Homo sapiens: one gene and its partners. The protein of the gene in region 3 interacts with the protein of the main gene of each other region in a pairwise test. Each region holds a gene or a part of one and is shown on either strand. Other genes may lie near its edges.

Region 1 (3,500 bases), about 17 Mb from region 3:
GCCCTGGTGCCCATTCACATTGAAGTCACCAGCGATGAGCAGCCCCGAGCACACGTGGAGTTTTCCGACAGCGACCAGGACGGGGTTGTGTCCGACCACAGTGACTACATTCACCTAGAGGGGTCATCCTTCTGCAGTGAAAGTGACTTTGATCACTTTTCCTTCACATCCTCCGAAAGCTTTTACGGATCCAGCCACCACCACCACCATCACCACCACCACCACCACCGCCACCTCATCAGCTCCTGCAAAGGCAGGTGCCCGGCCTCCTACACTCGATTTACCACAATGTTAAAACACGAAAGAGCCAGACACGAAAACACCGAGGAGCCCAGAAGGCAAGAAATGGACCCTGGCCTTTCTAAACTTGCTTTTCTAGTCAGTCCTGTGCCTTTCCGGAGGAAAAAAAATTCGGCTCCTAAGAAACAGACTGAAAAGGCAAAATGTAAAGCATCTGTGTTTGAGGCTCTGGACTCTGCCCTTAAAGACATCTGTGACCAAATTAAAGCTGAAAAGAAAAGGGGGAGCTTGCCGGACAACAGCATCCTGCACCGCCTCATCAGTGAGCTGCTGCCAGATGTTCCCGAGAGGAACTCATCCCTGAGAGCGCTGAGGAGGAGCCCCCTGCACCAGCCTCTCCACCCACTGCCTCCCGATGGTGCTATTCATTGTCCACCCTACCAGAATGACTGCGGGAGAATGCCCCGCAGTGCCTCTTTCCAAGACGTGGACACAGCCAACAGCAGCTGCCACCACCAAGACCGTGGCGGTGCACTCCAAGGTGGATGAGCTTTTCTTTCTTTTTCCTTGTGGTTCAGAGACCCACCCTCCAGCTCTTTCATTTTCCATTCCAACATCTCATCACTCCCGAGCTGGGAGACCATTTGGCGTCGTTATGTGTTGTGAAGCAAAAACTTGTTGTGCAAATATGTCTTACTGAATATTTCTCATTTGCCCATGTGATATTTGGACTTGATGTGTGGCTTAAAGTGATCATCAATTCACAAAAATTTACTCTTTCGAAAACGAGAGGGAAGGCCATTTTGTAGCTCAGCATTAGGGTTGAAACAACCACTACTCACATTGAGACAATAAATTACGTTGTGACATGAATCAAAACCTATAGTTCCACAAATAGCCTTTTAAAAATGTTTATATTAACGTTAAAACTTTATATTCATTCAGTTAATAAATAATTTGTCACATTCTATATAGAAGATACTATATCAAAACATTCAAGAAGCAAAACTGAAATATGTGATTAGTAATTGATGGACACAAAGAAATTAGGGTTTGTTTAATAGCTTTCTCCATTTCAAGGACACAATGGTGATAAAATTTTTGTGAATGTATCTTTAAGCTATATATATAAAAGTCCCATTTCCACCATTTAGTGTATTCATTTTCTCTTTTCCATTACTTAATTCATTCACTTTCTCTTTCTGCTAAAACAGTCCTGTATTGAAATTTGAATTACACTATTCAGGCTAACAGTGACTCTAAACTCTATTTTCATAGATAACTTTGAAGTGGCAACACAAGAATAAATAGCAATTGAAAGGCAGAGGACTATTTTTGAGATTTATATAACTTACAGCCCAGGGTGTTTTAATATTTGTGACCAATTATTTTCATTAATTCTTACAGCACATCTGTTCACTACGTAAATTTTAAGAGGCTGGAATGAACATTCCGGGCTGAAAGTTGGTCAACAGAGAAACTTCTATGCACCAGACACTACAGAGTGCTTTACATACATTATCTAATAAAACTGGCATAGGCCTATGAAATGGGTGTTATTTCAAAAGCCATTTTCAATTTTGGAAGTTGGGCCCAGAGAGGAAAGGAAATTCGTCCAAGGTCACACAGAGAGTAGATAACAGAAAAGAGATTCAAACCCCTAATAATTCAGAATTTATAGTATAAAATATAATCTCAGACAAAAAAAAAGACATAATTCACAGTTCATACTAGTGTCAAATATGGCTCGATTGTTAATTAACTTGCACAAATCTACTTAGTCTTTATGTTTGCTTTCACTTTTGCTACACTATACACTTACGTTTATCTTTGCCTACCCTTAGGCTGAAGCAACATGCTTCAAAATAATAAATTAGAATTTAAAAAATCAATTTCTACAATTCAAAATTTTCACTAATTGAAATGTGTCAGAATCTCATTTTTTAATAAATTAGCTACCTTCTCCAGGCTTTTAATATCCTAATATAACCATCTCTCAATTTTATGTGCAGATAGGAGTACATTTTTGAAACGTAACTTGGAAGGGCTTTGAAATGCATTTAAAAGTATTTTGTTTTTTAGTAAAATATTTACTTTCCAATTGTGTTTCACCCAAGTGAAAAATAGCTTATATTCCCTGGGTTAGAAAAAGTAATTTAAAATTTATGATCATTATGAGGCCCTATGATCATAAAAGTATATTAACTTAGAATTTACATCATCAAAGTAGTCAAAATCCTAAAACAATGTTTTCTTATTATGAATCAGCACTTTAAATTCTTTCATAGATGGATAAAATAAATTTTATTTTTAATGCTTCTTGTTAGTCTGGATAACTAGATATATTTAAGGGATAAAAGAAAGAATTGACAAATATTGACCCAGTTGTACTGATAAAATTCTATAACATAGACTACTGGAATACATTTAATGTCTAGTTACATCTCCATATGTAAGTCACGTAAGTGCAAAAGGTATAAGATACTATTAAGAACTACATGCAATCAAAATTTTGTAATGTGATTATTTATGCTTTGCTTTAAGATGAACAAAAATAATTCAATATTTCATAAGCAATTTGGCAACTGACATGATGCTTTCTGTTTATCCCTTTTTTGCTTGGAGTAAGAAGAAACAATATCTCTTTGTTTCTTTGCTTTCTGATAAGGTGTTTATCATCTGGGCACAAAGGAAGGTCGTAGATAAACAGCATGGCATCTTGAGATTCAATAAGTATTTAAAAACAGAGGAAGAGCGAAGAGGGGAGAGTAAGGCAGAAGGAGAATGTTCATCACCACCCTCCTGTCATCCTCATACTTTCTTTGGTTTTATCTCTTTCTTTTTCATTACTACAGTCTTAAATTACTCCACAAAATGTTTCTTTTTCTACAAATTGTTGCTATTTTCAAATTCTCCATCCTCTGTAAATCTTATAATAGTAATTATAAATAAGAAGCAAAGGCATAGAAACAGAAAGCTTTGGAAAAAATTTATATGAAAAATCCCTCTAACTATAAATTGTCTTACTGGGTGTGGCAATATAATTAATCAGCAATGTAGTAATCATATTTATATAGACAATTATAATTCTGCAACCTCAGATATTTTTCCTTTTGAAATGCTCTTGTTTTGTGTCTTATTTCACAACTTTGTAATGAACTATGAGTTTTATGCCCATGTGTTCGATAACGGTGTCTCTCCAAATTTGGGGAAAAAAGTAGTGGCCACCAGGGAAAATGGCGGAACAGGTTGGCTTGTAA
Region 2 (3,500 bases), on a different chromosome or scaffold from region 3:
GGACGTCTTCCTCTGTTTTCATCTTCCTGAGACAGCACAAGTAGAGCCATCTTCTATTCCTTCTAGTTTTGAAATTGGCATAATGTCTGATTAATTATAACAAAAACTCCCTTTAACTGCCTTGATCTTTTAAACGTATTGTAATCATAGCTTTACAGAGCATTACATGAAAATGTAAATATATCCATAATCTCTCCACATAATAGATATTTTCATTTTACCAGATTCTCATCCAATTTTTTATCCATATAATTCTGTTTTTTTATGTAGTTATAATGACGATGTACAGTTTTTTGGCGGGGTTTACATAACATTGCTTAGTAAATAGTGCCCATGTTATCACATGGTTTTTATTTCAGCATATAGTAATTTACCATTACCATGGACATTTAAATTATTTCTGTTGTTCTGCTAATGTAGGTAATGCTACCATAAAGAACTAAATTGCTTTTCCTCCATTGAAGAAGAATGTCAACAAGAAAGGAAAAATAGACAAACTGGAATTTTATAACAGTAAATGTATAGGAAGTGTTACAGCTCTTTGAGAATTTGTCTAGCAGGCTTTCCAGGGTTTTGCTGGAAAGCCTCTGAAATTTACTTTTAAAAAAACACAATAGCTGGGCATGGTGGCTCACGCCTGTAATCCCAGCACTTTGGGAGGCTGAGGTGGGCGGATCACGAGGTCAGGAGTTCGAGACCAGCCTGACCAACATGGTGAAACCCCATCTCTACTAAAAATATAAAAATACAAAAATTAGCTGGGCATGGTGGTGTGTGCCTGTAATCCCAGCTACTCAGGAGGCTGAGGCAGGAGAATCACTAGAACCCGGGATGCAGAGGTTGCACTGAGCTGAGATTGCGCCATTGCACTCCAGCCTGGGCGACAGAGCGAGACTTCATCTCAAAAAAAATAAAAATAAAAAAAAATGTATACAACGAAGAAAGAATTAGCATGAAATATGCATATGTCATCCATGAGGCTGAGGTTCGTGGCAGCCTTAGCCTCAGAGCCAAATTCCCAAACCAGAAATAGAGAAAACTTAAGCAAACAAGTCAAATATGTCACAACACCCCTAGCGATGGCCCCACTCCCTAACAGAGCACCTTACATGTACTCAAAGCCTACTGATTCTTTCCTAACACAGTTTAAAGTAATTTTTGGTTGGTTGGTTCCAAACCTTATAGGAGATTAATAACAGCTAAAGTTAAGACTGGTGAGAAGCAAAATCACTGACATGGGAGAGAAGTGACAGATGGCAGTCCCAGGTCAGAGGAGGAGACAGGAACATGGCTGTGCTGTGTGTCACAGCGCAGGACAACACCAGATGTTTCTGTTGGGTTGAATTTCTATTGGGTTAAATGGAATTAAATTAATTGAGTCAAACTGTGCTTTGTGCCTCTGTAGAAAAATTTAAAGAGTTAGAAAATATAGGAAAATTTCCATGGACAAATGCTAGAAGAAAACAGAATACTACTGCTTAAAAGGAAAACTTTAATTCCTGAAAAGATTTGTTTCTGTGGAAGACTGCATTCATAGACAATACCTAATGAAGAAGTATAGCTATAATAAAATTATTATACAAGAGTTGATGATTGAAATTTTTAGTGAAGGCCAGGCACGGTGGCTCACGCCTGTAATCCCAGCACTTTGGGAGGCTGAGGTGGGCAGATCACCTGAGGTCAGGAGTTCGAGACTAGCCTGACCAACATGGAGAAAACCTGTCTCTACTAAAAATACAAAATTAGCCGGGCATAGGGGCGCATGCGTGTAATCCCAGCTACTCAGGAGGCTGAGGCAGGAGAATTGCTTGAACTCAGGAGGTGGAGGTTGCGGTGAGCAGAAGTCGCCATTGCACTTGAGCCTGGGCAACGAGAGCGAAACTCCATCTCAAAAAAAAAAAAAAAGTGTTAGTGAAAAGTAAGTTTTCACATGGGACAGATATCTTTGAATGGTGTGTGTGTGTGTGTGTGTGTGTGTGTGTGTGTGTGCACCAGAAGAAGGGCTTCTGTTTGATAAGAGTACAGCCCTTCTTCCTTCTTGGGCACCAATAAATGAATTGACTTTAAGGAGTTGTTCATATAGACTCCAAATATTTTTCCTAACTTATTATTTGCTTCTTATTCTAAATATTATTTCTATTTTTAAATTGGTAATAGACCATCTTCCCTGTACCCTCTAGATCTTTAATGGAATAGCTAAGCATATATCTTCTCCCATCCTCCTTTAAGACTTGAGTAGGCAATGTAAGGACTAGAACTGTGTCCTGCTCACTATTGCACCTTCCTTGAGGGGCACAGAGCCTGAAACATAAAGGGCATTTTCAAGTATTTCTTTTTAAAAATTTTCTTATAGAGACAGGATATCTCTATGTCACCCAGGCTGGTCTTGAGCTTCTGGCCTCAAGTAGTCCCCTGCCTTAACCTCCCAAAGCACTGGATTATAGGCATGAGCTACCATGCCTCGCCTAAAAGTAGTTTTTAAATTGGTGAATTAATTTCCACAGTCTACCAAAATTTTTTTGTAGATTTGCCTTAAATATTTCCAGCATTAGGCATGTTTAATATTTTATAATGATAATGGATCATCTAACAAAAATAAATAAGGCACCGTCGAGTACCAAGTTTTCCTCTGCTCTGCAGCAGCCTCAGCCTCCAAGCCCACAGCCTGAGAGCGCACCCAGACAGCCCTGAGCAGTACCGAATGCACTTGGAGTGCCCTCTAATTACAGCTTTGGACAAGGCCAGCCCTCATTCTACTAACCACTTGTGGCGGGTCAGTTGATGGTCAAGGCCCCATGATAGGTGTCTGGTTTACATCCAGATGAGTCTTTTCTCAGATGCCTGCCCAAGAAAATATTTGGTTGGGATGGTGAGAGGAAGAGGTGCTTCTTTCAGTGTTTTCTCCTAACTCCCTTCCTTGCTCAGAAATTTGGTTCTTTCTCAGAAATCCCTAAGTGGACCAGTAGGGTCCCTATCAAGATGCCTACTTGAGGAATCTGCCAGTTCCAGCCCACTGAGTCTCAGAGCAGTGGTTAGAGCAGACCTACCTGATTGACACATGCCCCAGTTAGACCTGTTCACAACATCTGAGCACCTGACCTCATGCCAAACACCTGTTAAATCCTCAACAAATGTTTGTGTAGTAAATGAATTTTTTTTATGTGAATGGGTTTTAAGCCTAGTTACAGTGGACTGATAGCCCATGAATAGCTTGGTTTTGGTTTTTATTTTGTTTTTGAGACAGGGTCTCACTCTGTCACCCAGGCTGGAGTGCAGTGGCGCAATCTTGGCTCATTGCAGCCTCGACCTCTCAGGTTCAGGTGATCCTCCCACCACAGCCTCCCAGGTAGCTGGGACTATGGGACAGGCGCACACCAACATGCCCGGCTAATTTTTGTGGAGACAGGGTTTTGCTATGTTGCCCAGACTGGTCTCAAACTCCTGAGCTCAAGCCATCATCCCTCCTCAACCTCTCAAAGTGCTGGGGTTACAGGCGTGAG
Region 3 (3,500 bases):
AGAGGATGAACTAGAGCTGAGAAAAGGGGAGATGTTTTTAGTGTTTGAGCGCTGCCAGGATGGCTGGTTCAAAGGGACATCCATGCATACCAGCAAGATAGGGGTTTTCCCTGGCAATTATGTGGCACCAGTCACAAGGTATGGTTTTGAATACATTGTTTACTATGTTCTAAACAGAGAAGCTTTGTTCTTTTCCATGGTTTTCAGCCTATCCAGATTCCTTTCACATTATAATTGCCTGTTACATAGCCAAGGTTTTAAAAATCCATGTCTACATCTGCTAAAATCCCTTCTAACTCTAAAATTTTTAGCTTATTTTCACATGGATATATGTGAAATTATAGGTTTCTACCAGTAAATGTACTGGGTTTTAAGTTATTTGCTTTAATGGGAGAAGGTTCAACAACACCATTTTCAGTATTTTTCTACTAGAAAAGGCATAGTGTTGATACAAAGAAAAGCTATATTATTAATACTTATGTGTTTATATAATGCGTACTATATGCCAGGCAGGCAGATTTATAAATGCATTACACTGATTAACCTTACTTCTTAGTTGCTGTTACATTGAGGCACAGAGATATCATACAGCTTGTCTGAGATCACATAGTGAAGAAGTGCTCAAACTCAAACCCTGGTGATCTAGATTTATATTTATTTCATTAACTTGGTAATTACCTCTGAATTCTGACAATGAATTCTATAATATAGTCAGAAATAAAAATTTTAAGTATAGCATAGATCCTTCTCAACTGAGGGCAGTTTTGCTCCCCAGGGAACATTTGACAATATCCAGAAATATTTTTGATTGTCACGACTAGAGGTTAGGGGTGCTACTGGCTTTAGTGGATAGAGGCTAAGAGTGAAACATCCTATGCATAGGACAGCCTCCCACAAAAAATAATCATAATCTGGCCTAAAATGTCACTGAGGTTGAGAAACCCTGTTATAGAGTGACAGGAGCTTTAGATATGCAAAATTTTATATATTTTATGTAAAGATAGTTCAGCTTTTGGTCACTGAGGAAAGAAGCCTTGGAAACAGTTAAATGACCTGTAATGAAATCAACACTGAGGGAGCCCTAGTTTTTGACCACCGGCCGTTTAATATACAGTCCAGGTCTAACTGCATTAAATCTTTCCTCAAACCGCCTGATTTTAAACAAATAGCTTAATGAACTGACATGTTTGTCAGCTGTTGGCCTTGATTTATAGGTTGGCCAGCAGCCTAATCAAATGAAAATCACTGTTGTTGCAGATGGTGACAGAATGTTAACTTTAATTTGACTTGCAAATTTTTAATCAATATAAACATTCTTTTCTATGTATGTTAAAATCTACATTCAGAATCCATCCCATCCAGAAAATGACAGATAGAACCTCCCTGGTGCAAAATAATGATAATAATGGATAAGAGAAATGCAACAAAGAACAAAAAAATAAAGTTAATGAAGGAAAACATTTTTATAAAAATTTTTTTGTCAAACATCTTTATCAAAAACCAATTATTAGAAGTCTCTCTGCTTGTATAGCCGGGTGCAGTGGCTCACGCCTGTAATCCCAGCACTTCAGGAGGCCAAGGTGGGCAGATCACTTGAGGTCAGGAGTTGATCACTTGAGGCCTGACCAACATGGTGAAACCCCATCTCTACTAAAAAAAAAAAAAAAAAAAAAAAAAATACAAAAATTAGCCAGGCATGGTGGCACGTGCCTGTAGACCCAGCTACTTTGGAGGTTGAGGCAGGATAATCACTTGAACCTGGGAGGCGGAGGCTGCAGTGAGCCGAGATCATGCCACTGCACTCCAGCCTGGGCGGCAGAGCAAGACTCCATCCTAAGGAAAAAAAAAATCTATCTGTTTGTTTAACTCTAGAGGAATATGTGCTTACAGTAAATTCTGTCATTCATGGTAAATAATAAGGATGTTCAAGCTAATGAAGTGTTTTCTTAGTAGAAAGTTACTATATACAGAATTGTTATCATTTAAATGAATTTGGAATATGGAAAAAAACACATTACACAAAACTATACTGAACTTAATTACATTCAGTGAGTAAATAGATGTTTAGAGTTGGCTGTAACCCTGAGCATGTGCAAATACAGGATGAATACAGGAGAGTTATTTCACACTGGCCCTGCTTTCAAGGAACTTACCAAGTCAGCAGTATTTGATAAAGAATTTATTTAAAAAATAATACACCAGCTAGGCGCGTTGGCTCAAACCTGTAATCCCAGCACTTTGGGAGGCTGAGGCGGGTGGATCACCTGAGGTCAGGAGTTCGAGACCAGCCTGGCCAACATGGTGAAACCCCACCTCTACTAAAAATACAAAAAAGTAGCCGGGCATGGTGGCGCGTGCCTGTACTCCCAGCTACTCGGGAGGCTTAGACAGGAGAATCACTTGAACCTGAGAGGCAGAGGGGTGAGCTGAGATCGCACCACTCCACTCCAGCCTGGGCAACAGTGAGACTCTGTCTCAAAAAAAATACTACTACTACTAATAATAATATACCACATTTTGTAATCAAGGGCCAAAGCATAAACAATTGTGGAGTTTAGAAACAGAATGAAAGAAGAAATCCACATGAAACAATAGAATCATAAGATCTTAAACCTGAATCTGAGGCAAGGCTTCTTGAACTGACAGTGTTCATGCTGGATCTTGAAACATAAATGAGATTACAATATGTCAAGAGAAGACGGAGAGGACTTTCCACTAGTGCGTGTATGTGTGTGCATGCATGTACATGGGCACATGTGTGATGTGGAGCTGGAGGCAAGTAGGAAGCCAGGAAACAGGAGCAAAGATATGGAAATGGGGATATTGTCAGGGAATGATCCTAGCTTGTTCTGTAGATGAAGGGGGAGAATCCAGGGCCTTGAAAGTCAGTGGAGATATTTGGTCTTGTTATGGAAAGCTGAATGCAATAACTGTATATTCTTGAGCAGAGTATGACGTGTGGTTTCTGGTGACTCAGAATATATTTCAAGACCTTTCTCTGTCTCAGCCATCATTACGTTGAATTTTCTATTCTTAAACTTTATAAAAATAATTCCATTCATTTTTTAAAATGTTCTATGTTTAAAGCTCTGAGTCATTTTTCTTGCATTTAATTGTTCTTTCTGTCATTTTGCTGATGGACTGGGCTTTCCATCTATGTTTGTGTCTTGGCAGGGCGGTGACAAATGCTTCCCAAGCTAAAGTCCCTATGTCTACAGCTGGCCAGACAAGTCGGGGAGTGACCATGGTCAGTCCTTCCACGGCAGGAGGGCCTGCCCAGAAGCTCCAGGGAAATGGCGTGGCTGGGAGTCCCAGTGTTGTCCCCGCAGCTGTGGTATCAGCAGCTCACATCCAGACAAGTCCTCAGGCTAAGGTCTTGTTGCACATGACGGGGCAAATGACAGTCAACCAGGCCCGCAATGCTGTGAGGACAGGTAAGGAGGAACCCAGGCCAGAACATATCAGGATAAAGGGCTTACCTGCCTAATAGTAGATCTTTT
Region 4 (3,500 bases), on a different chromosome or scaffold from region 3:
TTCAGTATGCCATTTACCCAGGTTCTTATGCTCTCCCCCAGCAAGGTTAATTGAAAGCTGGTCAAACACAGAACCTAAATGGCAAAAAGTAGCCCTTTTGTGTGTGTGTGTGTGTGTGTGTGTGTGTGTGTGTGTGTGTGCATTATGGGCCATAGCAACTGGCAAGACTGCCTTTTAGATTTTGGATAGATCCTTTTAGTTTATATGTTCTTGGTTTTTGGAACAGAGTCGGACTTCCTTTAAACAAAACCAAACCAACCACAAACCACGATCTGAATTGACTGGTGGGGGGCAAGATGCACTTACTTTCCATTATCCTTGAGCCTTTGATGATGCTGTTCCTTCAGTTAATTACTTCCTGTAATGAATTTTATATGCAAATGAAATGAGAGTTCTTAGAATGCAGCATGAGCTGGGCGCAGATCCTGCCTATCGCTGTTGACAGACACATGGAGGATCTCAAGGTGCACTTGTGAGTTACCTCGGCTAGATCTGAGTGAACAAATGGCTGTCTTGTTTGTTGGTCAAGCTTGGTTCATTTAAAGCAACCCAGTCCTGGTCTTTTCTAGCTAATGGGGGTGGGTGGGGGGGCGTCTATATGTTTATTGAAACTTATCACCCTGATCTCCATGTAGACAATCAAACTGAAAAAGGCATTAAGTTTCAGGACAGAGTCACAGTCATATTTTGCACCACAAAAGCCATCCAATCAACCTCATGCCGAAATAAGTGCACCCTGCAAACCTCTTGTGAGCGCAGGGGAAAGCTAAACTGTGGTTGAGGAGGCATCAGAGTCTTTCTGTGTTTGCACACAGGGCCATCAGAGCCTCCCTAGGAAAGTGAATAATAAGCAATGGCACCCTATGCCCCCCAAGTTTGGCAGCCTCCAATCTGCTCTCACACTGCACTCCTCAGTGACAGGAGCCAGGGATGGAGCAGCCGGGTCACTGAATTGAAAAAGTGGCACATGTGCCCTGACATCTGAAAATTTCTTCTTAGTTAGTGCACACCACTGGGGGAAAATAAGAAGAAACTCGGTAGTCAGTCATGACAAGCTTATAAGTATGAAAACATAAAAATGTCTGAAGATGATTAAGTGCCAGATGATTTTAGCTCTAGATGAAGTAGCCTCTCTCCTGCTGTCCAGAGTGTGAGTTAATATAAAAGAAATGTAGGCTCTGTTGTTCCCATGGTTCTGTTTAAAGACCCTTTCTCTTCCCCCTTCTCTACTCAAGTTTAGTAAGTAAACCCTGCTTGTTGAGCCCAGGGCTTAGGTACTGGGGTTATCGGTGGTTTCATAGTCTTTTGAAAATTGTGCAATAATTCTCCGAGCCAGTGGGTTAGTGGTCTTCAGAAGTTCAGCTGCTGAGGGACGAGACCTTGGAGTTGCCTTACTTCCCTTCTTCTGTAGCAAGGCCTTGAAATCGTCATTTCTGCCAGCATCTAGGTTGGCACTGCTGCCTGACCCTGCAGTGGCGGTAGACTCACTGATTGGAGACTCAGCTGTGTTCTTTATTGGTGAGTGGGAACTCGTTCTGCCACCCACAAAGGCCTCACCAGGTTCCTTCCAGCCGAGCAGCTTCCTTTTGGACCTAGATAAGAGAAAGTTTGGTCTGAGTGAGTTAATGCAGCAGACATTTACCAGTGCTTCACAGACCCCCATGCCTGTGACACAATCCAGGCGGCAGCCCTGCAAGCAGCCGTATTGACCTGCTTTCTCTCTCTCTCACCTCTAAATCCTCAGAGTCCCTTGTTGGGCCCTCCCGTCCCCATATTCCTTTCAATGCCCCCAGCTGGAGTCACTTGTCCTGTGCCTGTAGCCTCAGTCCTGCCCAGGTTCTGGGACCAAGGACGAATTTCAGGAGTCAAGGCTAGTAGCTCAGTGACTCTGAATCAGGACAGCCTGGGGACTGATCCTGTTCTGGACTGGTGGTCTAGCTCCAATAATAAACTCTTCCCAGTTTTCTTGTCACTGAACCCCTGCCTTGTAACCCTGTCCAATAACTGGTCCCCATCTGGTTCCTCTTTTCCTAAGTTCCTGTTTTGATATGCTGCCTGGTGCCCCACTTCAACTCTTGATGGGATTTTTTTGATACAAGGAATTCTGTGAAGGGTTAAATGTCTCTGACTATAGACAGAGCTAAGAGAGAGCAGATGGAGCCACAATAGGCCAAGTGGTTGCTAGGAGACGAGGGGCCTCTCACTCGGCACCTGGTCCTCCTCTCCCCTCCCTTCCTCCACTTTACCCAACGATGTCAGTGAATTTGAGATGCGAGGCCCTGGACTGCGCTCACATATGTGGGTATCTGAACTTAGCCTCCAGGTGCAATTCTAATGGCTGCTTAAAGGTAGCAGTTTTTCTTATTTTTAATTTTTTTCTTTTTCTTTTACAATTAGGATTTCAATGTGGAATAGCAGGTTTTCTTTAAGTACAAAAAGGGAAGGCAATTGCAATTAGAATTAAGGAAATTGGTGCAGACCTGTGTATCACAGTAAATAAATCTTCAGTTGTGCGTGAAGCCACAAACACGTCATCATCATCCTCTGCAATCCATTCAGCTGTTTTATCACTGATTAAACTTTTTTCTTCGGTGCCTGGTTCCACAGAACTCCCTAGACATAAAAAACCAAAAGGAATGACTTTGACCACAGTAGATAGGACAAAGCACATTCTCATATGTTATTTCATTTGATGGTGAAAGCAACTCTGTGAGGGCAGCAGGGTGGAGATTTTTAATACCTCCATTTTGCAGAGGAGGAATATGAAGTTCAGAAGCTTAATGATTTGCCCAAGGTGGAGTGAGTGGTGAAGATCAGCGTGGGTCCCTATTCTGTCATGTCTTTGTCATTATAACAGGTGGCCCGAGCATTCTCTTGTTTTAAACACTGTATATCATTTCTCCAAATGAAGGAGCTGGGAGTGATCTAAACTAGTGACTCCCACCCAGTGGGTGAGAGTGGAACCTATTTGAATCTCAGAGGGGAGCCTGTGGAGTCTGAGGAAGTGTTTTCTACAACTACCTGGGGCTTTGATTTATTTACTTGACTTAGTCATAATTGACTCATATTGAAAGTCCAAATTTGCATATAGAAGGCCATGAGATTTTGATTTTTGGTGTTAAGGGTTCAGAAAAGAATGAGAAACATGGATGAACCCTGACAACATTAAGCTTAGTGGAATAAGCCAGTCACAAAAAGACAAATACTGTATGATTCCACTTATATGAGGTGTCTAGAGTCAAATTCATAGAGACAGAAAGTAGAATGGTGGTTGGAGGGAGGAATCTGCGGGGAGGGAGAAGGAGGAGTTGTTGTTTACTGGGTACAGAGTTTCAGTTTTGCAAGATGAAAGGAGTTCGGGAGATTGGTTGCTTAACAATGTGAATGTGCTTAACACGAATGAACTGCACACTTAAAAATGGTCAAGATGGTAAATGTTATGGGTACTTTACCACAATTAAAACAAAAAGAGACAGAAAAAGAAAGGATGAGAAGCATTA

What was found. Proteins that work in one complex are often made in the same cells at the same time.
Region 1: the proteins of SH3RF1 (region 3) and SORBS2 interact in a two-hybrid assay, tested with the Homo sapiens proteins (one large-scale study listed by BioGRID).
Region 2: the proteins of SH3RF1 (region 3) and WIPF1 interact in a two-hybrid assay, tested with the Homo sapiens proteins (one large-scale study listed by BioGRID).
Region 4: the proteins of SH3RF1 (region 3) and NHSL2 interact in a two-hybrid assay, tested with the Homo sapiens proteins (one large-scale study listed by BioGRID).

What each region holds. Positions count from the first base shown.
Region 1 is NC_000004.12:185,620,195-185,623,694, reverse strand, and holds part of SORBS2 (sorbin and SH3 domain-containing protein 2), read left to right. Parts: coding exon 1-781; intron 782-3,500. UniProt on the Homo sapiens protein: Adapter protein that plays a role in the assembling of signaling complexes, being a link between ABL kinases and actin cytoskeleton. Can form complex with ABL1 and CBL, thus promoting ubiquitination and degradation of ABL1.
Region 2 is NC_000002.12:174,563,305-174,566,804, reverse strand, and holds part of WIPF1 (WAS/WASL-interacting protein family member 1), read left to right. Parts: intron 1-3,500. UniProt on the Homo sapiens protein: Plays a role in the reorganization of the actin cytoskeleton. Contributes with NCK1 and GRB2 in the recruitment and activation of WASL.
Region 3 is NC_000004.12:169,117,457-169,120,956, reverse strand, and holds part of SH3RF1 (E3 ubiquitin-protein ligase SH3RF1), read left to right. Parts: coding exon 1-138; intron 139-3,174; coding exon 3,175-3,434; intron 3,435-3,500. UniProt on the Homo sapiens protein: Has E3 ubiquitin-protein ligase activity. In the absence of an external substrate, it can catalyze self-ubiquitination. Stimulates ubiquitination of potassium channel KCNJ1, enhancing it's dynamin-dependent and clathrin-independent endocytosis.
Region 4 is NC_000023.11:72,141,345-72,144,844, reverse strand, and holds part of NHSL2 (NHS-like protein 2), read right to left. Parts: exon of another isoform or gene 3,483-3,500; intron 2,614-3,482; coding exon 2,481-2,613; intron 1,593-2,480; coding exon 1,271-1,592; 3' UTR 1-1,270.